Regions from separate parts of the Homo sapiens genome. Here region 1 is linked to region 2. Evidence: fine-mapped QTL for protein levels in blood plasma. A gene starts in region 2. The other region holds a variant in brackets. All regions are shown on one strand. Distances are between the middles of the regions.

What was found. PIP is the posterior inclusion probability: the model's chance that the variant is causal. The UK Biobank Pharma Proteomics Project read protein levels with antibody pairs (Olink). The fine-mapping took linkage between variants from a reference panel, not from the people measured, so its PIPs are less certain.
Region 1: its variant is fine-mapped to the plasma level of the LPA protein (UK Biobank, PIP above 0.99).

The regions. Positions count from the first base shown.
Region 1 is chr6:160,580,727-160,596,784 of GRCh38, forward strand. LPA (lipoprotein(a)) reads right to left here. Exons shown (of 39, transcript NM_005577.4): 21 at 14,628-14,809; 22 at 13,232-13,391; 23 at 10,218-10,375; 24 at 8,827-8,986; 25 at 5,723-5,904; 26 at 4,320-4,479. Among named protein-coding and RNA genes, the nearest start is that of LPA, 76 kb to the right of the region's middle. The variant C/T (reference allele first, on the strand shown) is at 8,392.
Region 2 is chr6:160,655,043-160,671,100 of GRCh38, forward strand. LPA (lipoprotein(a)) reads right to left here and starts at 9,233. Exons shown (of 39, transcript NM_005577.4): 1 at 9,124-9,233. The coding sequence starts at 9,172.

The sequences.
Region 1 (16,058 bases), 74 kb before region 2:
TTCAAGCCTGTTGCCCATTTTGATTAGGTTGTTTGTCCTCTGATTAGTGAGTGGGAGAAATGTTTCTATACTCTGGATACAGGCCATTTGTCAGATATATGGATGAGAGTGTTTTTCTTCCAGTGTGTTACTTACTTATTTATTTTCTTAACAGTCATATTTGGTGAGCATAAGTTTTTATTCAATGAATGTCCACATTATCATTTGTTTTCTTTTACAGTTAGTGTTTTCTGGTTCTTCCCTCAAAAAATTTTTCCTTCTCCAAGGTTATAAGATACTATACTTTTTCATAGCAGTCTTATATTTCAGCCTCAGAATTAGCTGTTACATTGAGGTCTAAGAGCTATCTCAAATTAATTTAATTTGAGTCATACAGTAGGATTCAAGCGTCACATTTGTTATAGTTTTTTTCTATGGCTATCCAGTTGTTTCAGACCAATTTTGGAAAAAAATTTCCTCATTAAATTGCTTTGCTACCTGTATTGAAAATAAATTGACCATATATGTAAATTTATGCTGACCCTTTTCTGTTTTTGTTTGCATATGTTTTGCCCAATACTATGTATTTTTTGTTTGTTTGTTTGAGAGAGAGAGGGAAGGTTTTAATCTGTCTCCCAGGCTAAAGTTCAGTAGCACAATCATGGCTCATTTCAGCCTCCACCTCATGGGCTCCAGTGATCCTCCCACCTCAGCTTCCTGAATAGCTGGGACTACAGGCACATGGCACCAAACCTGGCTAATTTTTTTAAATATTTGTAGAGATGAGGGTCTTGCTATGTTGCCCAGGCTTGTCTGCAACTCCTCATCTCAGGCAATCCTCTCATCTTGGCCTCCCAAAGTGTTAGGATTACAGCCAAGCGTCCCAGCCAATACCACATGTCTTGATTACTGTGTCTTTATGAGAATTTCCATATTACCATATGCATCTATCCCACAAACTTGTGATTTTATTCCAAGTTTTTTATTCTTTTTAAAGATTGTCTTGGTGATTCTAGCATATACATTCTGTTAGGTTTTCAAGAAAAGACTGCAGGAATTCTGCTTGGGTGTGGGTTGAAACTAAAGATCAGTTTTGTGAAAAGTGACATTGGATTTTTTAATCTATAAGCATGATGTGTCTTTATTTAGATCTTCTAATTTTCTTCTCACCAATGTTATGTAGTATACATGGTATAGTTCTTTTGCATATTGTGTTAAATTTATCAATAAAGTTTTTTTGTTTTGATAGTATTTTGTGGTTTTGATGCCAATTCCCATATGGTATTATTTTTCTTCTACTTACATAGCATTCTTTCACATCTTTTATTACATAATCCTGCTGATGAAACATTCTTTTATTTGTTCTTTGTTTTTAGGAGGACAGAATATGTACTTACGTAACATTCATTTTCAGTGGAATTGTTTGCTGTGCATAGCGTTTAAGCTTGCTGGGTTTTTTTCCTTCTTTTCACTCTAAAGGTGTTATTCCATTGTTTCTGACTTGATCTTTTTTTTTCTTCTTAGCATATTATTCCATTTTTTCTGACCTGATCTTTTCTTCTTCTTACTACTCTAAAGGTGTTATTTCATTGTTTCTGATTTTATCTTGTTTTCCTTCTTACCACTCTGAAGGCGTTATTCTGTTGTTCCTGATTTGATCTTTTTTTCTTTCTTACACTCTAAAGGTGTTATTCCATTGTTTCTGATTTGATCTTGTTTTCCTCCTTACCACTCTAAACGTGTTATTTTGTTGTTTCTGATTTGATCTTTTTTTCTTCTTACCACTCTAAAGGTGTTATTCTATTGTTTCTGATTTGTGTTGTTTCTGATGAGAAGGCATCAGTCATTTGTGTCACTGTTACTCTATGTAAAGGTATGTTTTTTCCCTTGGGCTTCAAATAAGATTTTACTTTCTATCTTTGATTATGGACAATTTAATTATGATGTGTCCAAATAAATCATACAGCTTTACTTTTTAAAATCCTATATCTGATCCATTGAGCTTCTTGACTATGTGAGTTTATCATTTTTTCCATATTTAGAAAGTCATCAGCCATCACTGCTTCAAGTATTTTTTCTGTTCCAATATCTCTTTCCCTTCCTCTGTGACTTGCTTTAAACAAATATTAAATATTTTGATATTTTCATAGATGTCCTTGAGGCTCTGTTTATCTTCTCAGGCTTTGTATAAGCGTGCTATGGTTTGCACCACCCTAATATTTTCTAGTTAGCTTTATCATCTGTACTATCTAATATGATTATAAGGCCATGTAGTGATTTTCTCATTAAAGAGATGTCTTTTTTTTCAGTTCTTGACTCTCCATTTGGTCCTTTTACAATTTTTCTTTCTGTTGATATTATCCATTTATTTATTTCTTGTCCACGCTTTCTTTAAATCCTTGAACACAATTATGATACATACATTTTAAATCTCCTTGCCAATTCTGTTATTTTTATCATTTTTGGGTCTATTTGTATTGACTGATTTTTCTCCTGGTTATGGGTCACACTAAATGCTTTTTGTATGTTTAGCAAATTTTTAAATGTATGCCACACATTGTGCATACTATATAATTGAGCAATTTAATTTTGTTGTTTACCTCTGAAGAGGTTGTTTTCTTCTGACAGGCAATTAATTTACTTGGAGATCATTTGGATCTTTTTAGACTTGGTTTCTAAGCTTTTCTAGGGTGTTTCTGGAGTAGACTTTATTCTAGGAATGCATTAATTCTACTCCTGAAGTATGGTTTTTTGGGGTCTTTGCTGAATGCCCAAGATGTTCAATGAAGTGTCTCTCCTCAGGCTGGTCAGAGCTCAAATACCTCCCAGTGCTATGTGAGCTCTGGCATCTTCATTGAGCTCACTGTTCCCCAGCAGTTGTTCTTTCCCCAGTAGCTGTTCTTTGTTCTCCTTTCTCTCTGGAAACTCTTTCTGTGCATACACAGCTTTCTGTTCAGCCAGAGACTTGAAGAGACTTCTGTGTGTATTCCTGGAGCTCCTTTTCTCCACAAATACTTTCTCATTATTACCTAACCTAGAAAATCTCGGTTTTATTAGTAAACAAAACTCCAGTCTCTCTCCCCAGTTTAGCAAGACTGCTGTGGAATGCTTTGGTTAAAACTCTTTGCCCTTAAGTCTAGGAAGGGTAATTATGGGGTTGATCTTATTTGTTTCCCTTTCTAAACTATCTCAGGTTGTACTGTCTGCTGTTCAACATGTGCAAACAGTTTTTCCATATTATTCATACTCACTTATGGCAAGAGGCCAGTTTTTGTCAGACATGCATTTTTTTGTCCATGTACCTGCCCATTTTAATCACCACATCTGTTTACTTCCTGACTCTCATCTGCATTCCTGCTTTTACTCTGCCTGACAACCCATATCCCTTCAGAAAACTGGTGCTTAGAACCCAGTGTGTTCATACAGGCTAGTACTCATATATAAATATATGCACTCATTTCTATTTTCTTCTTCTTCTTCTTCTTCTTCTTCTTCTTCTTCTTCTTCTTCTTCTTCTTCTTCTTCTTCTTCTTCCTCCTCCTCCTCCTCCTCCTCTTCCTCTTCCTCTTCTTCTTCTTCTTCTTCTTCCTCTTCTTCTTCTTCCTCTTCTTCTTTTCTTCTTCTTCTTCTTTTTTTTTTTTTTTGAGATTGAGTCTTGCTCTGTCACCCAGGCTGGAGTGCAGTGGCATGTTCTCGGCTCACAGCAAACTCTGAATCCCAGGCTCAAGTGTTTCTCCTGCCTCAGCCTCCCAAGTAGTTGGAATTACAGGTACCCACCACCATGACCGGCTAATTTTTTAATTTTTCGTAGAGATGGGGTTTTGCCATGTTAGCCAGGCTGGTCTTGAACTCCTGACCTCTGGTGATCTGCCCGTCTTGTCCTCCCAAAGTGTTGGGATCACAGGCCTGAGCCACTGCACCCAGCCTGAATTTGTTACTTCTGATTCGTGTCAAAAATGGCAAACACAAATTTCACTTCAGGGAATGGAGGATAGAATGATAGAATTGCATGGTTGAAAGACTGCATGGACCTTTAGTGGGCATTGTGGAATGATACTTTGTCTCAGCATTTGGTCATTTGATCTCCTTAGCTTTACATTAATGAGACTTCACCACCTCCATATATCCTGCTGCTTCCATCAAATTGTTATGAAAGATAGCAATCCTAAAACTTCTCTTCATTCAGACCTTTTGCTCAAAAGTAAGTTTCCTGAGACATTTTGCTACAAACTCTGAGTCTATGAGAAATTTGGACCTAGGAAGTGAGCTTGTAGCATGGGCCAGCTAAGAGAAATTTTAGTTGACTATTGTTCCTTTTATGGCTAACATGATAGACATACGCATTTGGATAGTATAATGGGATCCTCCGATGCCAATGTGGTGTCATAGACGACCAAGACTGACATGTTCTTCCTGTGATAGTGGTGGAGAGTGTGCCTCGATAACTCTGTCCATCACCTCGGTAGCAGTCCTGGACCCCAGTGCTGTTTTCAGTTGGTGCTGAAATTAAAAGAGAAAATCAAGCTCAGTATTGCCTAGAAAAGGGAAATGTGAAAAAAATTATGACACACAAAGTGGAATAATCTGAGGATTAACAATTTACACTCTTCTATATTAGCATGCAAATTGAAATGTAGAATAAAAATACAAATAGACTTATAGGATTCTAGAAATTTAATAAGTAGTCATAAATATTTTAATTCAACCCTGGAAAACAAACAAACAAAGAAACAAACAAAAAACAGATCAGAGTGCCTATACTTCAAAATTACACTCATGTGAATGGTCTTTTGCTTACACCTCTTCTGGGTGTTCATGAGAACAAGGCAGGAGACCAGGGTGCCATGCATCAAGCTGTTCAGGCTATAGGTGGTGATTGGCTGTTAGTGGGGGGTATACATGAAACCCTTGCACACTAGACCACTGCTCCTCCAAAGCAAAAGCCTTCAGATTCTGGGGTGTGGGGCAGAAAAGGATCTTGCATCTAGGACTTGTAGGTAAAGACACATTGCCTCTCAGGGAGAAGGAGTACAGGCCAAAATTTTATAGCCTAGGAGGGGAGACAGGGAATCTTGGGCCCAGGATCCCTCATTACAAGAAAGCTGACATCCACTACTCTTCTTCTCAAAAAACAACGGAGATAAATGTTCCATGAGAAGCAGGGATGAGAACACTGAGAAATCCCTTCCCTCAAATCCTAGGTGTGGAAGGCATGCCCAAGATGAAGGTAGGCTGGGGAGATAAACAATTTGGTGGCTATGTACTGCTTCAAAGTCTCAGGACAATACGGATCTAATGAAGACATGTTAGGTTTCTCAAGAACAACAGCCTCAAAAATGGCATTCCTTCAAAATGGTAAAGCTGAAGACTGCAATAAACACTGCCTACTTGAAGAAAGGGCTGGACAGGCTTAGGAGCTTGGTATATCTTCACAAGTTTGGCAGGATGTTAGAATATCCATCTTGGCTAGGACACTAATATGATTCGTTTGATAACAGGGAAGTGATAAATCCAGTGTCCTAGAGGGTCTGTGCCCCTTTTAAAGACACCATCCCTCACAAGGCACTCAACATCCCAGCTCTGGTCCCCCCAGAGAAGGCACTGAAGCTTCCTTCCCATTGGCTGTCCATGACTTCACCTTCGACTTCCTGTGCAGCATGGAAGTTTTCTGCATCACAAAGATTTTGCAAATCTTTTTATCCCAATGTCCGAGGGTATGGTTGTCTGACTGCAGGCTTCTTACCTTCTTCAGAAGGAAGCTCTGTGCTTGGAACTGGGACCACCGTGGGAGTTGTGAGGAGAGTTGATTCCATCACTGGACATTGCGTCAGGTTGCAGTACTCCCATCTGACACTGGGATCCATGGTATAACACCAAGGGCGAATCTCAGCATCTGGATTCCTGCAGTAGTTCCTGGTCAGGCCACTGCAAATTCCAAAACAATACAGGTCACCAGAGATTGGAGAAGATACAGCACCACCTGGCACCCTCTATGTTTTCTTGTAACAAAGTGTAAACAAGCAAATTTGAAATATTCTCACTAAAGTCCCATAACACTCACAAATGGTCCTCAACTTCTAAACAACTGTCAACATTTCAAAGACAGCTTATGATTCTTATTGTAACACATTCAAAGTAATCTATGCTTTATAAGAAAACTGAGAGAAAACATCAATGTGTACCAGAAAGGATCAGAATACCCTCCTTCTACCTTCTGCCAAATACATTCCTTTGGATTAACCGAGAGGGATTTTGAAGTGTGTCTTGGAGATTGTTTCACGTACATACAAATGTTTATCTGTCAGGCTGTCTGTAAGTCTCTATAAAACTGCATGATCTATTCAGTGTTTGATTTGCTGATTTGTTATTTACCTAAGCAATCCATCCACATGATCTACATTCATGAATTTATTTACATACAGTTGATCTCAATATCTACTTCTCAGCTTTCACACCTGGAGGATGCTATAGCAATGGCATCTCTCTCCTGTTACTCATGATGGTGATGGATATGCTCCCTCCTTGGTCTGTCATCTGTTTAGCCAGACTTTGGCCAATCATATAGACTTTTCAAAGAACCTAACTTTCTGTTTCATGGATTTACTCCTTTGTTGGTCTATTTTCTTTTCCACTGAATGTCATTGGTTTGGACTATTTCCTTCCATCCTCTTTCCTTGTGCCTTATTTGCTTTTCCTTGCCTAGATATTTAAGCTGTGGTCTTAGATCAACAGCTGTCAAAGCTGTTGTTCATAGGAACCCCCTTTTTTTCTTTTTAGCTTTGAATTGAGGCAACTTAACTATGATATATCCCAGTAAATCATAGAGTTTTGCTCTTTAAAATTCTATACCTGAGTCATTTAGCTTCTTGACTATGAGTTTCTTGTTTTCTGTATATTTGGCGTGTTGCGAGCCATCATCGCTTCAAGTATAATGTCTGTCATGATATCTTTTTCTTCTCCTTCTGTGACTTGCCTAACACATATATTAAATGTGTGGATTTTTCCTAGATGCCCTTGAGGCTCTGTTGATTAATAGGTTCAGTCTTTGTGTGTGTGTGTGTGTGTGTGTGTGTGTGTGTGTGTGTGTGTGTGTGTTTCTGTCTGTTGGTCTGTCTGTCTGTCCTGTGATTTGTGTAGCTCCTATTGAATTATTTTCTAGGTCACCTTTCCTACCGTAATGTCTAAAGTGATGATAAGGCCATCCAGTGAGTTCTTCATTAGAGATGTACCTTTTCTCAGTTCTTTAATTTTCATTTGGCTCTCCGGTTCTTTTCTTTTCTCTTGCTATTCTGCTTTTGTTTCTCTCATGGTCAGCTTTTGCTGACATTTTCCTGAAACACAGTTCTCAGAGGTGCATTTTAAATGTTCTCACCAATGTCATCAATTCTATAATTTCTGGGCCTGTTTGTGTTGAGTGATTTTTTCTCCCAGTTATGTATCACAGTGAAAGCTTCTTGTGTCTCTATTAAATTTTTAAATAGAAGTAACGCAATAGGAATGCCATATAACTGAGCAACTTGTATTTGTCCCTTGCCTCTAAGGGGGGTTGAGTTTTTTTTTTCTTGTGGAATGCAGTTAATTTACTTGGAGATCATTTGGATCCTTTTAGACTGGCTTGGAAGAAGGGTTGTTGGAGTTTTTCTGGAGTCACCTTGATTCTAGGAATAAGATGATCCCAATCCCAAAATACAGCTTTCTTTGGTCTCTACTGAATGCCCAAAATGTAGTGAGGTGTTTCTCCTCTGAGTGGTCAGAATTCAAATATCCCCCAGTGCTATGTGAGCTCTGGCATCTCCATTGAGCTTACTGTTCCCCTGCAGTTGTTCTTTCCCAAGTAGCTTTTCTTTGTTGTTCTTTCTTTATGAAAACTCTCCCTGTGCATACGCAGCTTTGTATTTAGCCAAAGCCTTGAGGAGACTTCTGTGTGTATTCCTGGAGCTCCTTTCTTCCACAAATCCCTTCTCATTCTTAGCCAGCCTAGAACACATCAGCTGCCTGAGGCATCGCAGACTCCAGTCTCTCTCCTCAGTTAAGCAAGACTGCTGTGGTCAGCTGGGCTCCATCTGCTTGTCCTTCAATCCAACACTGTGTCCAGGAAGGAAGACAGGTTAATGATGAAGTTGATCTCCTTTGATTCCCTTTCTCAGTTCTCTCAAGCCTACCATATCTGTTGTCCAACCTGTGAAAACTGTTTTCTCATGTATTTGATAGTCCTTCATGGCAGAAAGGCTGGCATAGCCAGACATGGGTTTCTGTCCATCTTCCTGAATGTGTAACTCTTCAGCATCTCTATACTTCCTGACTCTCAGCTGCCTTCCTCCTTTTGCCCCTCATGGGCTGGCAACACATAGCTTTTCAGACACCTTGTTCTCAGAACCCAATGTGTTTATACAGGTTAGAGGAGAAAGTGAT[C/T]GGAAGATCTCGAAGTCAATATAGATATCCTTCACTTGTTACCCAAGACAAACATGGCAAACACAACCTTCACTCCAGGGCTTGGAGATTAGAATGACAGAATTCCCTGGTTGAACTATTTCACTGGTCTTTAGTGGGCATTGTGGAATGGTGCTATTTCTAAGCACATGGTCATATGTTCTTCTGAGCTTTCTATTCATGAGACCTCACCACCTCCAAGTATCCTCCTACTTCTATCAACTATGAGAAAAGAGAGCTGGCCTGACATTTCTCTCCTCTCAGACCCTGTGCCCAAAGCAAGAAGCCTGAGACATTCTGTCCAACATTCTGGGTCTGAGAGAAATTGGGTCATAAGAAGTTAGCTGGAAGCATGGCTCTTCCAGGAGAAATTTAAGTGGGTGGCTGTTTCTCTTGGGAGAAAACTCAAAGACATACCCATTTGGGTAGTATTCTGTGGTTCTCTGATGCCAGTGTGGTGTCATAGAGGACCAAGACTGACATGTCCTTCCTGTAACAGTGGTGGAGAATGAGCCTCGATAACTCTGTCCATCACCATGGTAGCAGTCCTGGACTGTGGGGCTTTGCTCCGTTGGTGCTGAAATTCAAAGAGGAGAAAACAAACTGAGTAATTTCCAGAACACAGAAGCATGAGAAAAAAAATCCATGATAGAAACAGGACATCATCTCTGAAAATGACGACCATGCTCTGTTCTACATTAGTAGGCAGATGGACATGCCAATAACAAAGCTCAAAGATTCATAGCATTCTGGAACTTCAATGAGTTTTTAGAAAGATTTTCTTTAAAACCTGGGCACCAAAGGACAGATCAGAGTGCCTATCAGTCAAAATTGCACTCATGTGCCTGTTCTTTGGCAAAGATCTCTTTTGGGTGTTCCTGAGAACAAGGCAGGAGACCAGAGTGCCATGCATCAGGCGGTGCAGGCTGTAGGTGGTGGTTGTCAGTGGGGGCAGACATGAAACCGTCACACATTTCTCCAGAGCACTGATCCTCCAAAGCCAAAGCCTTAAGTTTCTGGAAGATGGGGCAGGAAGTGGTCCTCCATCTAGGACTTCCAGGCAAAGACACATTGTCTCTCAGAGAGGGGTACTGGCCAAAATTTTATTCCCTTGGAGGGACGGCGGGAAATCTTGGGCCCAGGATCCTGCATTGCAACAAAGTAGACATCCACTACTCTTCTTCACAAACAGCAACACAGATACGTGTTCCATGAGAAGGAGGGGCAAGAACACTAAGAAATCCCTTCCATCAAAGCCTAGGTGTGCAGCACCTGCCTAAGATTAAGGTAGACAGGGAGATAGAGCATTTGCTGGCTATGTACTGTTACCTAGACCCAGGAGGATATGGAACTAAGTAAAGTCATATCAGGTTTCTCAAGGATGACAGACTCAAAAACCACATTCCTCTGAAACTGTAAAGCTGAAGTTTGCAATGAGTACTGTCTACTTGAAGAAATACCAGGAAAGGCTCATGATGAGCTTGGTAAATCATCACAAATTTGGCAGGATGTTAGAATATCCATTTTCACTAGGACACTGAAATAATCTATTGAATAACCAGGGGAGTGGTAAATCCAGTGCCCTAGAAGGTCTGCACGCTTCCTAAAGACACCACCCTGTCACGGGGTGCCAAAAATCTCAGCCCTGGTTCCCCCAGAGAAGGCGCTGAGGCTTCCTTCCCATTGGCTGACCCTGAGTCCACATTCAGATTCCCGTGCAGCATGGAAGGCTTCTGTATCACTAAGATTTTGCAACTCTTTTTATCCCAACGTCCAAGGGTGTGGTTGTCTGGCCAGAGACTTCTTACCTTGTTCAGAAACAGCCGTGGACGTCGCAAGGACACTTGATTCTGTCACTGGACATTGTGTCAGGTTGCAGTACTCCCATCTGACATTGGGATCCATGGTATAACACCAAGGACTAATCTCAGCATCTGGATTCCTGCAGTAGTTCCTGGTCAGGCCACTGCAAATTACAAAACAATACAGTTCACCAGAGATGGGAGAAGATACAAGGGCACCAGACATCCTCTACATTTTGTTGTAACAAAGTGGTAAAAAGTGACTTTGAAATATTCTCACTAAAGGTCCTGTAACAATCACAAATCGTCCTCAACTTCTAAACAACTGTGAACATTTCAAAGACAGATTATCATTCTTATTGTAACACATCCAAACTCGTCTATACTCCATAAGAAAACCGAGAGAAAACATCAATGTGTACAAGAAAGGATCAGAATACCCTCCTTCCACCTTCTGCCAAATATGTTACTTTGGATTAACTGAGAGATTTTGAAGTGAGTCTTGTAGATTGTTTTATGCACGTACAAATGTTTCTCTGTCTGGCTATCTGTATGTCTTTCTATAGGAGTACCCAATCTATTCAGTATCTGGTTTGCTGATTTGTTGTTTACCTAAGGAATTGATCCACATGATCTACATTCATGAATTTATTCACATACAGTTTTTCTTGATATCTTCTTGTCAGCTTTCAGACCTGGAGTATGGTATAGCAATGGCTCCTCTCCCCTGTTACTTCAAATGGTGATGGTTGTACTCCCTCCTTGGTCTGTCATCTGTTCAGCCAGACTGTGGTCAATCACATGAATCTTTTCAAAGAACCAACTTTCTGTTTCATGGATTTACTCCTTTGTTGGTCTATTTTCTTGTTCACTGAATGTCATTGGTTTGGACTATTTCCATCCATCCCCTTTCCTTGTGTCTTATTTGCTTTTCCTTGCCTAGATATTTAAGCTGTGGTCTTAGATCAACTGTCAAAATGTTTGTTCATAGGAACCCCCTTTTTTTCTTCTTAGCTTTGAAATCAGACAATTTAACTATGATGTACCCCAGTAAATCAGAGTTTTGCTCTTTAAAAATCTATACCTGAGTCATTGAGCTTCATGACTATGAATTTCTCATTTTCTGTATGTTTGGAAATTTGTCAGCCGTCATGGCTTCAAGTATAACTTCTGTCACATTATCTTTTTCCTCTCTTTCTGTGACTTGCCTAACACATATATTAAATGTGTGGATGTTTTCCTAGATGTCCTTGAGGCTCTGTTGATTAATTGGTTCAGTCATTGTGTGTATGTGTATTTGTGTCTGTCTGTCTGTCTTGTGGTTTGTCTAGCTTTAATTGAATCATTTTCTCGTTCACCTTTTCCTACCATAATATCTAAACTGGTTATAAGGCCATCCAGTGAATTCCTCATTACAGATATAACTTTTCTCAGTTTTTAAATTTCCATTTGGCTCTTCAATTCTTTTCTTTTCTGATATTATGCATTCATTTCTCTCATGGTCAGCTTTTGCTGACATTTTCCTGAAACACAGTTCTCAGAGGTGCATTTTAAATGTTCTTGCCAATGCCATAATTTCTATTATTTCTGGGCCTATTTGTGTTGAGTGATTTTTCTCCCAGTTATGGATCACAGTGAAAACTTCTTTTGTGTCTAGTAAATTTTTAAATGCAAGTTGCACTCTGGGGATGTCATATAACTGAGAAACTTGTATTCGTTCCTTACCTCTAAGGAGGGTTGAGTTTACTTTTTTCTGGAAGGCAGTTAATTTACTTGGAAATCATTTGGATCCTTTTAGACTGGCTTGGAAGAAGGGTTGCTGGAGTGTTTCTGGAGTCACCTTATTTCTAGGAATCCGAAGATCCTACTCCCAAATTATGGCTTTCTTTGACCTCTACTGAATGCCCAAGATGTTCAGTGAGGTGTCTCTCCTCTGAGTGGTCAGAACTCAAATATCCCCCAGTGCTATGTGAGCTCTAGCATCTCCATTGAGCTCACTGTTCCCTTGCAGTTGTTCTTTCCCCAGTAGCTTTTCTTTATTGTTCTTTCTTTGTGAAAACTCTCCTTGTGCATACGCAGCTTTGTATTTAGCCAAAGCCTTGAGAAGACTTCGGTGTGTATTCTTGGAGCTCCTTTCCTCCACAAATCCCCTCTCATTCTTAGCCAGCCTAGAATACGTCAGATGCCTGAGGCATCACAAACTCCAGTCTCTCTCCTCAGTTAAGCAAGACTGCTGTGGTCAGCTGGGCTCCATCTGCTTGCCCTTCAAGGGTCTCAAGGAAGGATGCCAGGGACATGATAAGGTTGATCTCCTTTGATTCCCTTTCTGAATTTTCTCAGGCCTGTCATGTCTGTTGTCCAACCTATGAAAACACTTTTCCTATGTATTTGATAGTCCTTCATGGCAGAAACGCTGACGTGGTCTGAACTGGGTTTCTGTCCATCTTCCTGCATGTGTAACTCTTCAGAATCTTTATACTTCCTGACTCTCAGCTGCCTTCCTACTTTTGCCCCTCATGTGCTGGCAACACATAGCTCTTCAGATACCTTGTTCTCAGAACCCAGGTACAGGTTAGAGGAGAAAGTGATTGGAAGATCTGGATGTCAACATAGATATCCTTTATTTGTTGCCCAAGATGAACATGGCTAATACAACCTTCACTTCAGGACTTGGAGATTAGAATGACAGAAATCCCTGGTTGAACTATTGCATTGGTCTTTAGTGGGCATTGTGGAATGGTGCTATTTCTAAGCACGTGGCCATGTGTCCTGAGCTTTCTATTCATGAGAACTCACCACCTTCAAATATCCTCCTGCTTCTGTCAACTATGAGAAAAGAGAGCTGGCCTGACATTTCTCTCCTTTCAGACACTGTGCCTGAAGAAAGAAGCCTGAGACATTCTACCCAACATTCCAGATCTGAGATAAATTTGTCATAAGAAGTTAGTTGGAAGCATGGCCCTTCCAAGAGAAATGTAAGGGGGCTGCTGTCTGTCTTTGAAGAAAACTCAAGGTTGTACCCATTTGGATAATATTCTGTTGTCCTCTGATGCCAGTGTGGTGTCATAGAGGACCAAGACTGACATGTCCTTCCTGTGACAGTGGTAGAGAATGAGCCTCGATAACTCTGTCCATCACCATGGTAGCAATCCTGGACCCCGGGGCTTTGCTCCGTTGGTGCTGAAATTCAAAGAGGAGAAATCAAGCTGAGTAATTTCTAGAACACAGAAGCATCAGAAGAAATCTGTGACTGAAACAGGATCATTGTCTCTGAGAAAGACTACCATGCTCTGTTCTGTACTAGCAGGCAGATGGACATACCAATAATAAAACCCAAAGATTCATAGCATTCTAGAACTTTAACGAGTTCTTAGAAAGATTTCCTTTAAAACACAGGCACCAAAGGAAAGATCAGAGTGCCTATCAGTCAAAATTGCACTCATGTGCATGCTCTTTAATATAGACATCTTCTGGGTGTTCCTGAGAATAAGGCAGGAAACTAGACTGCTATGCATCAGGCTGTGCAGGTTGTAGGTGGTGATTGACTGTCAGTGGGGACAGACATGAAACCGTCACACATTTCCCTAGACTGCTGATCCTCCAAAGCCAAAGCCTTCAGCTTCTTGAAGATGGGGCAGGAAGCGGTCCTGCATCTAGGACTCGTAGGCAAAGACAAATTGTCTCTCAGAGAGGGCTACTGGCCAAAATTTTATTCCCTTGGAGGGATGGCTGGTATCTTTGGCCCAGGATTCTGCATTGCAACAAAGTAGATATCCACTACTCTTCTTCTCAGAGACCAACACAGATATATGTTCCATGAGAAGGAGGGGCAAGAACACTGAGAGATCCCTCCCATCAAAGCCTAGTTGTGCAGGACTGGCTTAAGATGGAGATAGGCCAGAACGATGGAGCATTTGTTGGCTATGTACTGCTACCTGGACCCAGAAGTATATGGAACTAAGAAAAGTCATATTAGGTTTCTCAAGGATGACAGACTCAAAAACCGCATTCCTCCGAAACCGCAAAGCCAAAGATGCAATGAACACTGACTACTTGAAGAAATACCATGAAAGGCTTATCATGAGCTTGGTAAATCTTCACAAATTTGGCAAAATGTTAGAATATTCTTCTGGCTAAGACACTAAAATGATCCTTTGAATAACCAGGGGAGTGGTAAGTCCAGTGCCCTAGAGGGTCTGCACCCTTCCTATAGATACCACCCTTTCACAGGGTACCAAACATCACAGCTCTGGTTCTCCCAGAGAAGGCGCTGAGTGTTCCTTCCCAGTGGCTGACCCTGAGTCCACATTCTACTTGGAATTGTGTGAGCATGGAAGGCTTCTATATCACTAAGATTTTGCAACTCTTTTCATCCCAACGTCCTAGGGTGTGGTTGTCTGGCCATAGACTTCCTACCTTCTTCAGAAGAAGCCTCTGTGCTTGGATCTGGGACCACCGTGAGAGTTGCAAGGACACTTGATTCTGTCACCAGGCATTGTGTCAGGTTGCAGTACTCCCACCTGACACTGGGATCCATGGTGTAACACCAAGGGCGAATCTCAGCATCTGGATTCCTGCAGTAGTTCCTGGTCAGGCCACTGCAAATTTCAAAACAACACAGGTCACCAGAGATGGGAGAAGATTCAAGGGCACTTAGCGCCCTCTACATTTTGCTGTAACAAAGTGTAAAAAGAGACTTTGAAATATTTTCACTAAAGGTCCCATAATATGCACAAATGGTCCTCAACTTCTAAACAACTGCGAACATCTCAAAGACAAATTATCATTCATATTGTAACACATCCAAAGTCATCTGTGCTCCATAAGAAAATTGAGAGTAAACATCAATGTTTACTCTGTACATTGTGCAAGTTGCACTTGTACTTGTACAACTTCAATTGTACTTGTACAATTATACTCTGTACATTGTACAATGTTGTACAATGTACAAGAGGATCAGAATACCCTCCTTCCACCTTCTGTGAAATATGTTCCTCCAGATTAACTGAGATTGATTTTGAAGTGTGTCTTGTAGATTGTTTTATGCACATACAAATATTTCTCTGTCAGCCTCTCTGTATGTCTCTCTACAGGACTACACTAACTATTCAGCATCTGGTTTGCTGATTTGTTGTCTTCCTCAGGAATTGGCCCACATGATTAACATTCCTGAATTTATTCACATACAATTGTTCTCAAAATCTTCTTTTCAGCTTTCAGAACTGGAAGATGCTATAGTAATGGCACCTCTCCTCTGTTACTCCAGATGGTGATGGTTGTGCACCCTCATTGGTCTGTCATTTGTTTAGCCAGACTGTGTTCAATCATATGGATCTTTTCAAAGAATCAACTTTCTGTTTCAAGAGTTTACTCCCTTGTTGGTCTCTTTTCTTGTTCACTGAATGTCACTGGTTTGGACTACTTCCTTCCATCTGCTTTCCTTGGCTCTTATTTGCTTTTTTTTTTTTTCTTGTGTAGATATTTAAGCTGTGGTCTTAGATCAACAACTGTCAAAGTCTTTGTTCATAGGGGATTCCAAAGAGCTTTTCTTTTTCAAAACACAAGATGAATATTTATAGTATAAGAAACCAACACTGAGAATTTTTTTAACACACAAAGTCAACAATTGCCCATTTTCTTAGCCATCAGAGACATGATGCCATTACATATTATGTAACTGCTGGAAAACTCCCCTCTTCTCTTGTTGGAAAATGAAAGTAAAAAGGGCCAATAGCATCTTACTTTTCACGTAGCAAAGTCCTTTAACCTCATGGACTGTCTCTGAAGGTACTCAAAGGTCCTCAGGTTTCTCTAGACTACACTTTGAGAATTGCAGTTTGAAATCTT
Region 2 (16,058 bases):
CCTGCTCAAGCCCGATCACATACACACCACTTCAATTTGATGATGAAATGCCGCTGTGCTGACCCACTTCATGGCTAGATGGGTCAGAAAGCAACCAGTTCATGATAGGCAGGTTCAGGTAGCATGGTGACTTTATGACCCACAGTCAAACGTTCAGTTACCACCAAAGCCCAATAACAGACCAATAGCTGTCTCTCAAAAGGAGAGTAGTTATCTGCAGAAGTGGCAGGGCCTTGCTCCAAAATCCTAGAGGTCTCCACTGTGATTCACCTATGGGGGCCTGCCAAAGGCTCCAAACAGCATCCCTATCTGCCACTGACACCTCAAGCACCATTGGATCTGCGGGGTCATGTGGCCCAAATGGCAGAGCAGCTTTCACAGCAGCCTGGACCTGTTTCAGAGCCTTCTTTTGTTCTAGACTGCACTTAAATCTGGCAGCCTTTCAGGTCACTCGATAAATGGGCCAGAGTAACACACCCAAACGAGGAATGTGTTGCCTCCAAAATCCAAATAGGCCCACCAGGCATTGTGCCTCTTTCTTGGTTGTAAGAGGGGCCAAACGCAGCAAGTTATGCTTCACCTTAGAAGGAATATCTCCATAGGTCTCATGCCACTGGAACCCTAGAAATTTTACCGAGGTAGAAAGTCCCTAAATTTTAGCTGGATTTATTTCCCATCCTCTGGCATACAAATGTCTCACCAATAAGTTCAGTGTGTTTGCTACTTCTTGCTCACTGTATCCAATCATCATAATGTCATGAATGTAATGGACCAGTGTTATATCTCGTGGAAGTGAAAAGCGAGCAAGGTCTCTCCAAATAAGATTATGACACAAAGCTGGAGAGTTGATACACCCCTGAGGTAGGGTGGTAAAGGTATAATGCTGGCCTTGTCAGCTGAAGGCAAATTGCTTCTGGTGGGTCTTATGGACAGGAATGGAGAAAAAGCCACTTGCCAAGCCAATGGCTGCATACCAGGCACCAGGAGATGTGTTAATTTGCTCAAGCAACAAAACCACAACTGGTAGAGCAGCTGCAATTGGAGTCACCACTTGGTTAAGCTTAAAATAATCCACCATCATTTTCCAAGATCCATCTGTCCTCTGCACAGGTCAAATGGGAGAGTTGAACAGGGATGTGGTGGGAATCACCACCCCTGCGTCTTTCAAGTCCTTGATGGTGACACTAATCACTTCAGTCCCTCCAGGGATGGGATATTGTTTTTGATTTTTTTATTTTTCTAGGTAGAGACAGCTCTAATGGCTTCTGTTTGGCCTTTCCCACCATAATAGCCCTCATCCTACCAGTCAGGGAGCCAATGTGGCATTTCTGCCAGCTAATAAGTATGTCTATACAAATTATGCATTTTGGCACTGGGAAAATGACCAGAGGATAAGTCCAGGGACCCACTGGAACCACTGTAAGTCAGAAATGAGCTAAAACTCCATTAATTACCTAACCTCCATAAGCCCCTACTTTAACTGGGGAACCACAATAACGTTTTGGGTACCCTGGAATCAACGTCAGCTCAGAGCCAGTGTCCAGTACTTTCTGAAATGTCTCATTACTTCCCTTTCTCCAGTACACACAGTTACCCTGGTAAAAGGCCAGAGGTCTCCTTAGGGAAGGATGGGAGAAAGAGTAACAGCATAAGTTGTCAGTAGCCTAGTGGTGTCCTTCCTCAAGGGGATCCAGCCTCCCCTTCATTCAGTGGGTTCTGGAACTGTAACAGGTTCGAGTCTGGAAATTGATTGAGGGCCCATGATTCTCTGTTTTTATAATTCAGATTAGTCTTTAGTCCATTCTACCTGGCAGTTTTTTGTTTATATAAATCAAGTAGGAATACAGTAGGTTTCCCATCAATTTCACTTCTAGGAACACCATGATTAATTAGCCAATGCCAGAGCTCTACATGAGTCAGACTATTCTGATGGCTGCTTTGCCTCTGCTGTCTATTATGGTAGTTATGCCCACCTTGCCTTTGATGGTTCAGTGCCAACACTTGGCCCCTGCCACCTCAGGATCCAATTATTCCCATTGTATTTAAATTTTGTAGTTGAGTGACTGTGGTTCCTACTGTTAGATCTGACATACAGAGAAGAGCAATTACGGGCTCTTCAAAAATACAGGTGCTGCTCTCACAAATCTATTTCACAAAGCTTCGGCCAAGGGTGTATCTTCTGGACCCTCCCAGCTGGGATGAGTAGGTCTAAAGTGACTAATCCACTCCACCATCCTAATCTCCCTAAGCCTTTGGATCACTTCCTCTACATTAAACCAAGGCATTTCCAGCTCACTAACATTGGACCATCTTTTAATCCATATTTCAGCTAACCAAGCAAATAAACTATTATAACTTTTTTTTTTTTTTTTTTGGAAATGGAGTCTTGCTCTGTTACCAGGCTGGAATGCAGTGGGGCGATCTTGGCTCACTGCAATCTCTGCCTCACAGGTTCAAGCAGTTCTCTTGCCTCAGCCTCCCAAGTAGATGAGATTACAGTTACGCATCACCATGCCCAGCTAATTTTTGTATTTTTAGCAGAGATGGGGTTTCACCATTTTAGCCAGAATTGTCTCAATCTCCTGATCTCGTGATCTGCCCGCCCCCGCCTCCCAAGGTGCTGGGATTACAGGCGTGAGCCACTGCTCCCGGCCCTATCAGAACCTTTTCTAAGTCCCCGAGCTGCAACATTAAATGCAGAATCCCTACTTAGTAGGGCCAAACCAATAAATTCAGCTTGATCCAACTCTATGTCCCTTCCACCATTATCCCTTACCCTTAATATCCATTCCCATGCCTGTTCTCCAGATTTCTGCCAATATAAATTAGAAAGCTTAAGCAGTTCTTTTAGAGTATAATGCACCTCCTCATGGGTCACACTCTGAACCTCACCTCTGGGGCCCGCAAGGAATTTAGCCTAGTTATAGGTCTAGAAGCATTCAGGGGCATTAGGGGTGCCTCTTGAGGAGAATCAACATTATCTTGCCTGGCAGCTGCCTCAGGGAAGGCCATCACTGTTGCCTCAAGCAGTGCAGGGTTTACATCCTCAGACAAAGGTGGAAAGGCTAATGGCAGCACGGGTCAGGGAGGGGATGTTACCACTACTGGGGATGGGGAAACTGTTTCTTCTGGCAAAAAAGTTTCATCAGAGTTCACAAACTCAGTGTCCTCAGCTTCATCAGGGTTCTCCCACACATCCCCACTCCAAGTTCCAGGGTCCCATTTTTTTCCAGTCAATGCCCTCACTTTAACAGTAAACACCTGGCAAGGCTGTGCATGCACCTCTTGTTGCAGATCAGCTACTCGCATGATAACAGCTTGTCTCTGTTTTTTCACAATTTCAACTCTTTCTCTACAGGAGTTAAAACTCTCATTCAGGGCAATCTTAGCAGATTTGTGGCTCAGTATCTGCTTCTGAAGGTGGGAGACAGATCCCCTGAGATCATCATTTTCTTTCATCTCTTTCTCCAGAGAACTTAGGAGCAATCAACCAACTTCATTATGTTCCTTGGTTCTCCACATATAGTCAAAGGTATTATGTATAGAGTCACTAAACTCCTTGCCTCTCATAAGTGATGAATCAGTAGTGTCAAATGCATTTATTTTGCATAACTCTCTAAACAATTCAGGCCAAGTACTATCAGTGTTCTCCATACTATTAGAAGTAGAGTCCTTAGCATTTTTTGGTCTAATCATATTAATCAGCCAACACCAGAAGTCCCAAAACCAATGAAAGAATTCCATCCTTAATATTCTGTTCCTCAAGAACCACTTCTGGTATGAAAATCTGTATTAGTCGGGGTTCTCTAGAGGGACAGAACTAATAGGAGATTATATATATATATATATGAGAGAGAGAGAGAGAGAGTATATGTATATATGTGTATATATAGTGAGTATACCTATATCTATCTATAGATATAGATATACTCACACAAAGGGGAGCTTATTAAGTGGTATTAACTCACAAGATTACAAGGTCCCATAATAGGCCACCTGCAATCTGAGGAGCAAGGAAGACAGTCCAAGTCCCACAGCTGAAGAACTTGGAGTCCGATGTTCAAGAGCAGGAAGGATCCAGCACAGGAGAAAGATGTAGGCTGGGAGGCTAAGCCAGTCTAGCCTTTTTACATTTTTCTGCCAGCTTTATATTCTGGCTCTACAGCTTGGGGGCAGCAGGGGCAGGGGCCTCAGGGTGCTTGCAGGGATGACACACTGGCCTCTTTTCCATAGGGTGGCTGGGGCACACTGGGGTGTGAGTAAAGCACTCAGGATCTTTTTTCCTTCCCTAGTCCAAGTACAGCAAGGGCAGTATGACTGCAGTGTTAGTGGCAGAAGGACTTTCAGTCACCTCTGGGAGCTTCACCCCACAAAAACACAGAGTGCAGCCAGTGGAAATGTTCAACTGAGTTCGAGGTGCCTGCACTGTGGGCCCAAGCCAGGAGCCTTGCCTGGTGAAGAGTAGCAGGTGAAAGCTCACAAGAAAGAGAAACTGGAATTCTTTCCCTGCTGTGTGCTGGAGGTGTCAGGGAAGTGGCCAGGTCCCTTCTTTCTCAAGCCCAAGGGCATTAACGGTGGTACTGCTGCAGCTGAAATGGCAGAGGGGCTGTGGGTTGTCTCTTGGATTTCCTCCCCAGAGAAGCACAGAGCCAACACTGACTAAAATGTTCAGGCAGGGCCAGGGTGGCTGTGCTCTGCCCAGTGAGGAATAGTAGGGGCAGGGACCAGTGCAGAAAACAGTGTGGCCACTTTTCCATAAGGCAGCTACACTGTGCTGGAGGTCCGTGAGAGTCCTGAAGCTCCTCGCTCCCTCCTGAGCCCATACTTTAATCTCAAGAGTTTGAGATAAACAGTGGTAAGGAAGAAAGTACAACGGGTACGGCTAATGAAACCCAGGAAGATAAGTCAATGCGTAGAAGTAATTCCAACCTAAAGAAATACTTTTTAAAAATCATATTTATAGAGGTTTGCAGTGATACTAAAGACAATATTGCAAATCATTATTAAGAATACAAGAAGTACAATGTTTCTTGTTTCTTTAACACCTGTGATACAGGTGTTTGATATGAATTCTACGTAATGGCTGCATTGCTTCTTGCCACCACCCAAAGAAGGTTGTATAGCACTCAGATGTATACTAACTGCAACCGTGTATCTCTTAGGAATTTCTCCTTTGCCCTCTTCCCTCCCTATCAGCATGTATCTAGCAGCATTCTGAAAAGTTAACTGCACAGTGAGCGACTGCTGGGCATCTTAAGGGGCATTCTTTTCTACCTAGGTATTCCCCCTCCTCCACTCATGTCTAGCATGCAGGACTTGGGTAATCTCTGGGGTTTCAGATTCTCCAGACCTCCATTCTCTCAGGGGCTTCCACCTCCTGCTCATATCTAGCTATCTGCCTAGTCTAACCATAAAATCTTAAATAAGAATAAATCATGTTTGCTCTTGATTGCCATGTCATGATAAAAAAAATAAGACACCATCAGTGGCAACTGTGTTGCCAAGATTGATGTTGATCTGCTAATCCCTGTGTAGAAATGAACCTTGGAGGCCATTGTTTGATTTCTTACAATATGTGCATTGGTTGTAACACTGTCACTTTGACAGTTGATAAGCATCTTCTGAATGGTCCCTCCTTTAGTTACAAAAATGTTGGTGCATGGATGATGTTGGGAATAAATAAAAAGTGAACTAAATTATGTTCTCATCTTGGGCAAAAATTAAGCAAAAAAAAAATGGAGGATATGAAGCTCCTCCACAAAGAAGGCCATTTTTGTACTAGGCTTACTACAGTGACACACCACTATTAGTTGGGGAGAATTCAGTTTTTCCAAGGTGTTGATAGGCATCCAGATTTCAGAGGAAATTGTAAAAAAGCAGAACCTGGGACCAATACTGCCCACGATTTTTCTTTGAGATCAAATCTGAGGCAACAAATCTGTTCAAAAGCTGCTTTCTGCCTGGTTGTGGCAAAGGGTGGCCAAGTGGGGCTCAGCTGTGTTCCCATTGCAAGGCTACTGAGCATCCCCTGTCCTGAGGCTCCTTAGGACACCTGGCTGAGCTTCAGCAGCCCTCTTCCAAGCCTGGAGATGCCAGCTCCATCTCTGGCACAAAATGTAGTGATTTTCACAGGGTGAGAGGCCAAAAGAGGCTAATAAAATGAAGATAGCCAAGCTTCCATGGAATTAAGCAACAGGACAACCTTGACCACTTTGAGGGGTGTGGTGGGGGCCACATGCAGATGGAGTGGGTTAAAGAGTGACTAGAAGAGCAGTGGGGGTGGCAGCAGGAGAGAAGCCTGGCTCTGAAAGCAGCGAGACTTCTAGGGAATACAGGGTCAGGGGAGGTTCTGAAAGATGACACACTGCAGAGAACATGTGTTTGTATGCCGATGACAAGTATCCAGTAGAAAGGCAGATGAACAGATTCTCATTCTCAGAAAGGCCTGTCCTGACCTCCTGAGAGTACACAGACCATGAGGGCAGGGCAAGGAGGAGGATGCACGCTCACTGTTTCATGCAAAGTCCTTGGCCACAGTCCACCTGCTCCCCACCTCTGTGACTTTGTCCTTCCTCAATTTAATATGCTCTATGCTGGAAAACTGGATTATTGAACAGGCATTGGCTGATGCATTCTGAACCTAATCCACTAAAAAGCACTTGATAGATATATCAAAATATCATTGAGAAATAGATATTTTAGGCCCATATCCATGTCTTCACCCCGCACTGTTTCTCATTTGAACTCTCTTTTCCAGGAAGAGTTGTGCTTGGGTAAATTCTATAGCTCACAGTGTGACTTCAAAACACACAATAAATTAATAAGGTGCTTCCTACAGTGAGTTCAGTTAAACATTTTGAAGAGTGTTTTTGAAATGTAGCAGAGCAGGCTACAATTGATATTCAAAAAGAGGAAACTTCCATTTATTTCCCCCTTTAACTAAGTTACCTGTAACTGTGTCATTTTATTATGCTTCATAGAGCATCACTGCTGAGATCCCCTCCCCAGCTCATGTTGCTAGGAAATATCCCAAAACAGAATCAATTTTTCTTTTTTTAACCTGATGATTTTTCCACAATCCTTTTGTTTCTCTGATTCACCTCCAGGGCTCATATGGCAATGGGGATTTAATAGGGTTTATTTGTTGGTGAAGAAACATTAAACAAATCTTTTAATAGGAAAAATACTTTTATATTATAGGCAAAATGTAGATGTATATTGCTACTGAAGTAAATGTATTTTATTAATGGTGTGAGAATTTCTTCCTCACTGTGGTGTGTGAATGTGTATGCATATTTGCATGTGTAAAAGACTTAGCAATTTGTGAATAGAAGATGTTTCTCCGCTTCTCACTGAGCATGGCTGTAAAAGAAACTTTTTCCTCTCCCCGGGCATTCCAGCACACATTGGAAAGATAACACGTCCACAGAAAGCCTGGCTTTCCAAAAGAGCTTATCAGAGAATGTGCCCCCCAGGTCGATTAAAACATATGTTAATCCTGTGGCAGAGAAGTTTGTTCTAGCCTTTGGGTGTAGCCTGCTGAATAAGTTCACAGTGATCTACATCCTAGTTTCCATGGGCTGAAATAGAATATTCATATCCCCTGCACTCCCTACACACACAGACATAGACACCAATTTCCCCAAAAAACTCTTTGCTTAATCTTCTCCTGCTCTGTATTTTCTTTGATATTTTCTTGAATGGCTTCCACTAAATTCAAATGTGTTTGACTTTAAAGTCAACTTGTAAAATTTTATCTGGTAATTTATAGATTAAATTGCAAGCATCTACCTCCCTTTCATCAGACTCTCCCTGCAGGGCAAGTTCATCTAACTATGTATGTGCTTCAAGATGGAACTCCTGAGTTCACAGGTGATTTATAAACCAAAGCATGCCCACTACAAAACTCTCACCCTCCAGAGATTTGCCTCAAGGGACAACACCCTGCTCACAAAGGCACCAGCAGGCAACTGCTCAACTACCTGGTGGATAAGGTGCCCAAGCTAGCATGGACCCCTGAATCCTTGCTCGCCTCCTCTGTTGCCTTTTAAAAGTGCCACTTTCTGCTCCTAAAGTGAAGTAGTACGGCAGGACTGCTGCATTTCTTCCCCTAAGCTAGCTTTGGAAGCAAATCACTTTCTTTATACCAGACTTCTCTCTTCTTAATTGGATTCTGCAAGTGGCAAACAATTAACCTGCTCTTCAGTTACATTGGAATGTGTTTAGATTTATTTTTTCAAATGTTGGAACAAAGATGAAAAAGTGAGAAGAGCCCTAGATTTTTTCTTGGAAATCTGGCTTAAATCCAGGTTTCTTTATTTCCTTGATTTGGGAATTTGGTCACGAGACAAATAACATGATTTTCCTAAGTCTAGATTTCTTTGTTTATAAAATGGGGATGACTATGCTACCCTACCTATACCATGAGCTAAATAAGCTAGTATTTGTAAAGGACACACACTTACATTCACAATCACACACGGTGTGTATGTGTGTATGTATGTATAAAAATGTGGGGACCTAACCCACTCAACAAATACCCTGAGTATTTGTTGAATCATTATATGCGTATATCATCTGGCAAATGGATGTGTATAATTTCTCCAGGGATAAGAAGCAAATGTATACCGATGGAAAGCCTTACTCAGGCCATAACAAAGAGAGAAATGCTGAGTCCCACTCCATGAACAGGTCAAGGAACCAAACATATTCAAAGAGTTATTTCATTGTTTCAACTTGCTAGTGAGGGGAGCATGGCACCTGAACAGAGATGATATAAATTAATGAAACTGAGAACCAAGCGAAGAGCTTAGCCATCCTTTGCATAGTTAGCTACAATGGCTATTTATTTTTCAGCCAGACTGGCCATCATGTAGGCACACTCTTTTAGATTAGAAAAATCAACCATTATTTTTTCTGCCCATTCATTCCAGCACCGTGACAGTCTTCACGGGGAAATTAAACTTATTTTTTTAAGAATTTTTCAATCATATACAAGATTTTGAACTGGGAATTTCATGAATCAAAAATTAAATGAATTGCACATAAAGCCATGGCATATGTATTTTTACTACATTGTGGGAGAAAAAATAATTCTTATAATTTAAAAAAACTATGTCTTACCTGATTTCAGAAATAAAAGAAGTAGAAGAACCACTTCCTTATGTTCCATTTTGGGACTGGCCAGCAGTGCCCAGAAAGTGTGTCCCAATCCCAGGACATTGTTGACTTACATGAGAGTAAACGCACCCACAAACCAGATAGTCAAATTAAGTTAATGATTCTCTCAGAGACCCATGCCACTGGCTCAGCAGGGTTCAAACATTACCTTGAATATAGAGTCTTATAAAATATTTGAGAGTGCAATGTCAATAGATGCTGGGAAGTGGTGAAAGCCATTTCCCCCCTCAGCTGCTCCACATTGCCTTTATGTCTCCTTACTCCTTCCCTCACCCCTAGACCTTCATCTTTCCTGATTAGTCTTGTTTCCTCCCCTCTTCTTTCATTCTCTTTCTTTTGGATAAAATAAAATCATAAAAGTAGCTCATATTTGCTGGTAACTTCCATGACCAGACCCTCTGCCAAGTGCTGCACATCCATAGCCTCCCTCAAGCTTTCCAACAGGCAGTGCTGTACGAGGAGGGGGCTGAGGCCTTCCCGAGGTTGTGTCGCTACCCAGGGGTGCAGCTGATAGACACAACCCTTTCAGGTCTTAGTTTACGAGCAAGCTAGGTATAAATGTTAACATCTCCACATCCTATACCAAACTGTGCCGAAATGACAACATAAGTGAAAATCTTTTATTATCTTCAAAATTTATTTATTCCTAGTGAACTCACATGTTTTCTGTAATTATAAATTATGTTATAAGATATCAATCCTTCCAGGAGGGGGTGGTGGCTCATGCCTATAATCCCAGCATTTTGGGAGGCCACGGCAGATGGATCACCTGAGGCCAGGAGTTTGAGACAAGCCTGGGCAACATGCCAAAACCCTGTCTCTACAAAAAATACAAAAATTAGCTGGGTGTGGAGGCACATGCCAGTCATCCCAGCTACTAAGTAGGCTGAGGCACTAGAATTGCTTGAACACAGGAGATGGAGGTTGCAGTGAGCCAAGAATGTGCCACTGCACTCCAGCCTGGGTGACAGAGCAAGAATGTCTCAGGAAAGAAAAAAAAATAATAAATACCAAATAAAATTAATAAAATATCAATCCTTCCTATTCTAGTAGTTGTGGCTTAAATAAATAAATAAATATTTTTAAAAATAAAACATAGGGTCGAGTGCGGTGGCTCAACTCTGTAATCCCAGCACTTTGGGAGGCCAAGACAGGTGGATCACAAGGTCAGGAGTTTGAGACCAGCCAGGCCAATGTGGTGAAACCCCATCTCTACTAAAAATACAAAAATTAGCCAGGCGTGGTGGTGGGCACCTGTAATCCCAGCTACTAGGGAGGCTGGAGTATTCACTTGAACCCAGGAGGTGGAAGTTGCAGTGAGCCAAAATCACGTCAGTGCACTTCAACCGGGGTGAGAGTCTCAATAAAATAAAATAAAATAAAATAAAATAAAATAAAATAAAATAAAAGCATAGTATCAATCTTTCCGCAAATGAATTCATGGTGCAATCTTACATTTTCGTTCTCATGAAGTAAAGCAAGAGTGGTAGAATTAAGTGGAAAGAGTCTATCTCTAGTGTAGTCACGTCAGTGGTTGTGTCAAGATGGTTAGGAGGCTCCTCCCGTTTAAAACAGTATCCAAGCCCCAGTTGTAAATCAATTGGGGAGACACGCCAACTCTGATCATCAGCAATATCTGAGCTCCAGTCTCAGATATTGTGTGCAGTTAGTCTCTGTCCTGTACCCTCTACCTCCTTCCCTACCAGAAAAATCACCACTTTAGTCCCTGGCCACCGGGACACCCCAGGAGGGTGAGTGGTCTGAGGTAGTTATGGCACTTATGGCTCCCTTGCTGCTGATCTGGAACTCAAGCCCCAAGAAGTCCCCTTGGATGATCTGAATATACATTTGGGACAGATCTAGGGAGTTTCTGAGCAACACTTAGACTGGGGTCTTCCATTGATTAAATCCTACTTGAATTCGCTACTTTGGGACTCAAGTCTAAGGGACTGAGACTGAGACAGGAGAGCACAAGACTAACTTTGGTCTCTTGATCTTTTCTTACCTTGCAACTGTCAATGCCTCCAGCCAAATGCCCAGCACAGAGCTCAGTGGATTTGACTCTTCCATTCAGAAACTCATAGCGATTGCACACTTCATTCTCAATCACAGGGAGCTGGGCTTCCTTGAGAAAGCCAGCCCCAAAGGTACCTGTGTTTAAAAAGATGAAAGAAATGGTAACTACGTCCACAACATGTTCACAAGGAAACTCCAGAAGAACAGAGCAGTGGTGATGGACCTCCTGTCTGTCCGTGAGGCTGTAGAACACAAGGCAGCTCCCAATGCTGCCAGACTCTCTGAACCCTGGAGAGTGTAAACGTCATATAAGAGTCTATGTTCCAAAAACCTGGATTTAACAATCTGAGCTTTGTCATGGTGCTTTGCGGTTGGTTGTTGTTTCTTTACCTTTTTCTTTGCTTTTAAAACCATAAAGAATAATGTTTAAATGTAGAGTCTGAGAAATGCAATTGCTATTGTTTTTATATTTTCAGACTTTTTGTATGCTTCTTTCACTAATTACATCATATCACAAAATTTCACACCCTGATTTTTTCACTCAACATTACATAATGAGTTTTGTATAGTGCTATGATCTTCATAACTAATATTTTAAAGGAGAGCTACTGATTAATGAGCATGAGGTTTCCTTTGGGGATGAGGAAAATATTCTGGAAATATGATGATGGTTGCACACCACTGTGAATGTACTAAATGCCACTTGGTGGTACCCTGCAAAAATGGTTAAAATAGTAACTCTTACGCTGTGTACATTTTATTGCAATAAAAAAGAATAGTCATCATTTACTAAGCATTATCCTTTCCAGGCACAAGCTTATAATGTGGTGTATCTCACTTCATCCTCACAACAGTCCTATGAAACAGGCAGTTCCATCACTCCTGCTCTACAGTTAAGGAAACTGAGGTGTAAGGAGGTTGTCTAGTTCAACCTGAGCCTGGGTCTGCGGAGTCACTGCCCAAATGCTTCCTCCCCGTGCGCGTTGGCCCCCCTCTTGCTTCCAACCCTCCACATCTTTGTTCATAAAGTTCATTCTTATTCCTTAATATTTTCTGAGCCTAAGTTCCCATAAATTATATAGACATATTTCTGTCTCCCAATAACACTGCCAATTTATTTTCTAGAAGGTTATGACAGTGTAAAATGTCACTAGAAAACAATCACTTCACCACACTTGTATGAGTGTTCAATTTTTAAATATTAGCTAATCTAACAGGTTGAAATTGTCCTGATTCATTTTCTAATTTATACTTCTTTGACAATTTGGGAGAGTGAAGATTCTCCTGGTTGTGTTTATTCTTTTGTGAAAAACTGCTTTATTTTCTTTGCCAAATTCAAATAGAACGGTTGCAAAATTGCCAGAGGAAATGCTGTTTTTCCAGATGGACACACCCAGGGATGTTTCAGTGTTCTCACAAATAATCCAGTTTTCTAATTTTGCAAGCCCAGCTTTCATTAGAATTTTGCAAAAATCCTTGCTTTGCGAGCATGGCACAGGCAAGAGATGAGGCACTCTCTCTTTCTTCCCCCAGAGCCTTTGACTGCACTTAGATCATTGACTTTGGTTCAGAAACCTGACTGCATCTGGAGTTGACATGAGCAGCATGGAAGATGTTTGTCCCAGCACCTCACTCCAGAGGCCAGCTCAGCTCAATCTGGGCAGAGCTGCATGATGGAAGTTTCTGACTACCAAGCATCGGGCAGAGGGTGCATCACCTGGACTACATAGTTGTGTGAGGGAGCACCGTTCTCTAGAATCTGCTATTTGAGCAAGGCAAACATCCTGATAATGGTGAAAACCTACCGCAAGTTGCCAGGAAAGTTGATGTGGTCTGCGAGTAGGTGCTGCCATCCAGTGGCCGACATAGAGATGTCATCTCTGAGGGCAGGTAGGCCACAGGTGACAAGAGGATTGAAGCCCTCCCTGATGGGGCCTTGGGGAGAGGGCAGCAGGGTAAGTCCAGCGGCAGGATCAGTCCATTGATTGTGGATGACGACTGACCTGGAAAATCCCCTTGGCCTCAACACCTCCAAACTCTGCATTTGATCCAAGTCAGGGAACACCTGGAAACATGAAGGGGAGAGCAGGAAAACTTTGACCTCCCTCTCAGAGGCTGAGAACGCCAATTGACCTGATGTCATTATTGACATGTAGAAAATTGATGAACAGGCCTGAGTTATGTTTTGTGGCACCTCATGGTCTAGTTAGTGTTCTGAGAATCATTTTCTCAGTGGACCTGCAGGTGAGACCAGGCGAGGCAGAAGCCTAGTGGGGGATGGTGGTTAGAAATGTGTGGATGGTTGTGGGGCAGAAGAAACAGCAAGTAGGCTCTGGGCCAGCTACAAACTGGTTATATGATGTCTACTGATGATGATAGTGATGGTGGTGGTGGTGGTGATGGTGGTGGTGGTAATAATTGTGATGGTGGTGGAATGATGATGATGGTGGTGGTGGGTAGTAATGATGGTGTTGGTGATGGTGGTAGTGGTCGTGGTGATGGTGATAGTGATAGTGATGGTGGTGGTAATGATAATGCTAATGGTGGTGGTAATGATAATGATTATCATGATGATAGCGGTGGTGATGGTGATGGTGATGATAATGGTGATGGTGGTAGAATGATGATGATGGTGATGGTGGTGGTGGTGGTAGTAATGATGATGGTGGTGGTGATGATGTTGAGGGTGATGATAATAGTGACAGTGGTGGTGGTAATGATAATGGTGATGGTGGAATGATGGTGATGGTGGTGGAATGATGATGGTGGTGCTGAGTAGTAATGATGGTGATGGTGGTGGTGGCTGTGGTGATGATGGTGGTGGTAGTGGTAGTAACGATGATGGTGGTGGTGATGATAGTGATGATGGTGATGATGTTGAGGGTGATGATAATAGTGATAGCGGTGGTGGTAATGATAATGGTGATGGTGGCGGTGGTGATGATGTTGATGAAGATGATAATGGGAGTGGTGGTGGCAATGTGGATGGTGATGATGATGTTGACGATGATGATGCTCATCACAATCACCTTATATGTTAGTACAGGTAAGAAAGCCAAGGCTAAAAGAGATTAAATAACTGCCCAATGTCACATGGAAGATGGTAGAGCCAGAATTCACACCCAGATCCTTATGATTTTAGCTTGGTGCTTTCATCAGTTGAGGTATTGGAGAGGATCTGTTTGCTTTCTGGCTGCCCAGCAGTCTATCACCCTACATCCCATAATCCTGTTGAGGGATCCACCCTTTGCCCTTCTGGGTATGAGTGGGGTCCTGCCTCCACCTCTAGCATGTAATAGCTGATGCAGGTTGGAGCCAATCAGTGATGGGTTCAGGGACAGGCCTGTGACCCAAGTTCAACCTCTCAGACCTGGCCAACTATTGTTCACTTAATGGGGACAGTGGCCTTCCTCAGTCTTTCCTGGCAAAGCAAGAGCTGCCACAGCATCTGCCACCACAAGAATCTCACCTTTGTGCCCAAGGATGATGCCTACTGCATGGCTGGACAGGGCCTGGGCCCTGGGGCCATCATGTGAGCCTAAAGACTTTTCAGCTCAACAAGAATTCCCCTTTTTTGCTTAATCCATCTTAAGTTGGATTTTCTGTCACTTGCAAGAAAGAGTCATGTTAGATACAACTCTATTCTGTATATTAGTAGGAGCTGCCATGATGGAGTGCGTAGCACGTGCTCGACACTTGATGCACATTCTTATTGTTTCTCCCCCGACAACCCTGCAGCCCCCATTTCATATAAGAAAACAATCAATGAGAGTTCATGACTTTTCTAAGTCCCGACAGCCAGTAAGTGGGAACCAGGGTTCCAATTCAGGTCTCCCTGTGCCATCCTGCACCTTCTCTGAGCCTCAGGTTCCTCACTTGTAAAATAGGAACAATAATATCTAAGTCTTAGAGGTTTGCAGCATTTAAATTTTTATAAGTGCAAAACACTGGGAGCAGCCTGGCACACCCAAAGGTGTTCCTCTTTTGCCAAGTTTCCTTTTAGTTGGCCTCAGTGTTCCCAGACTCAGGAGTGCAGAAAGGGGGATCAAGAAACCAAGGAGGATGACATTTTAAAAATAGTAGAAAAAGCACAGAAAAAGGAAAGCAAACTTTGCAATTATCTAGACCAGTGGTTTTTAACCTTTTTGTTAAACAAAAAACAAACAAACAAAAACCTTTCTTCAAATGACAGCTTATGCAAAAGGCTGATGTGGAAAACACCACTTGAAAATGCTGGTTTTACAAATGAGGGGTTGGAGTCAAGTCATACAAAGAGTTAACGTGCCTAGTCCAGGTCTGTCTGGCTAGTGGCAGAGTCAGAACGCTTTTCTAGGGCTCCAGACTCATAATGTCCTCACCAGCACCTCTGAGAAAGTCAGCAGAGTCAGAACGCTTTTCTAGGTTCCAGACTCATAATGTCCTCACCAGCACCTCTGAGAAAGTCAGGCAGAGATCCCAAAACAGTCTTAGTGTTCCAGTGGTCAAGGGGGTAAGTCTGATAGATATAATTATTGTCAGGGCATACTGAAAAATGAAGAAGGAATCCCTAAGATGTAGTCCAGGTGCTGATACCACATCCTGCACAGATGTTCCCTCTCTTTCTCTCACCCATCAACCAATACCAAATACTATCCTAGATTTGGGGCCATGGGGCCTGTCTGCCTCTCCCTTAGCTGCAGGTCCCCTGCCTAACACCCTCCCACACACATTAGACATGTGGATTTGGTAAGAAGGCTAGTTTATTATAACTTTTGTCATTATTGTTTTACATCATGTTTAGAAATACAATCTGGCTAATTTCACATAAAAAATAATCTAACACCCTTAAGGGCTGGGTGAAAACCCCACTTACCTGAGGAAGC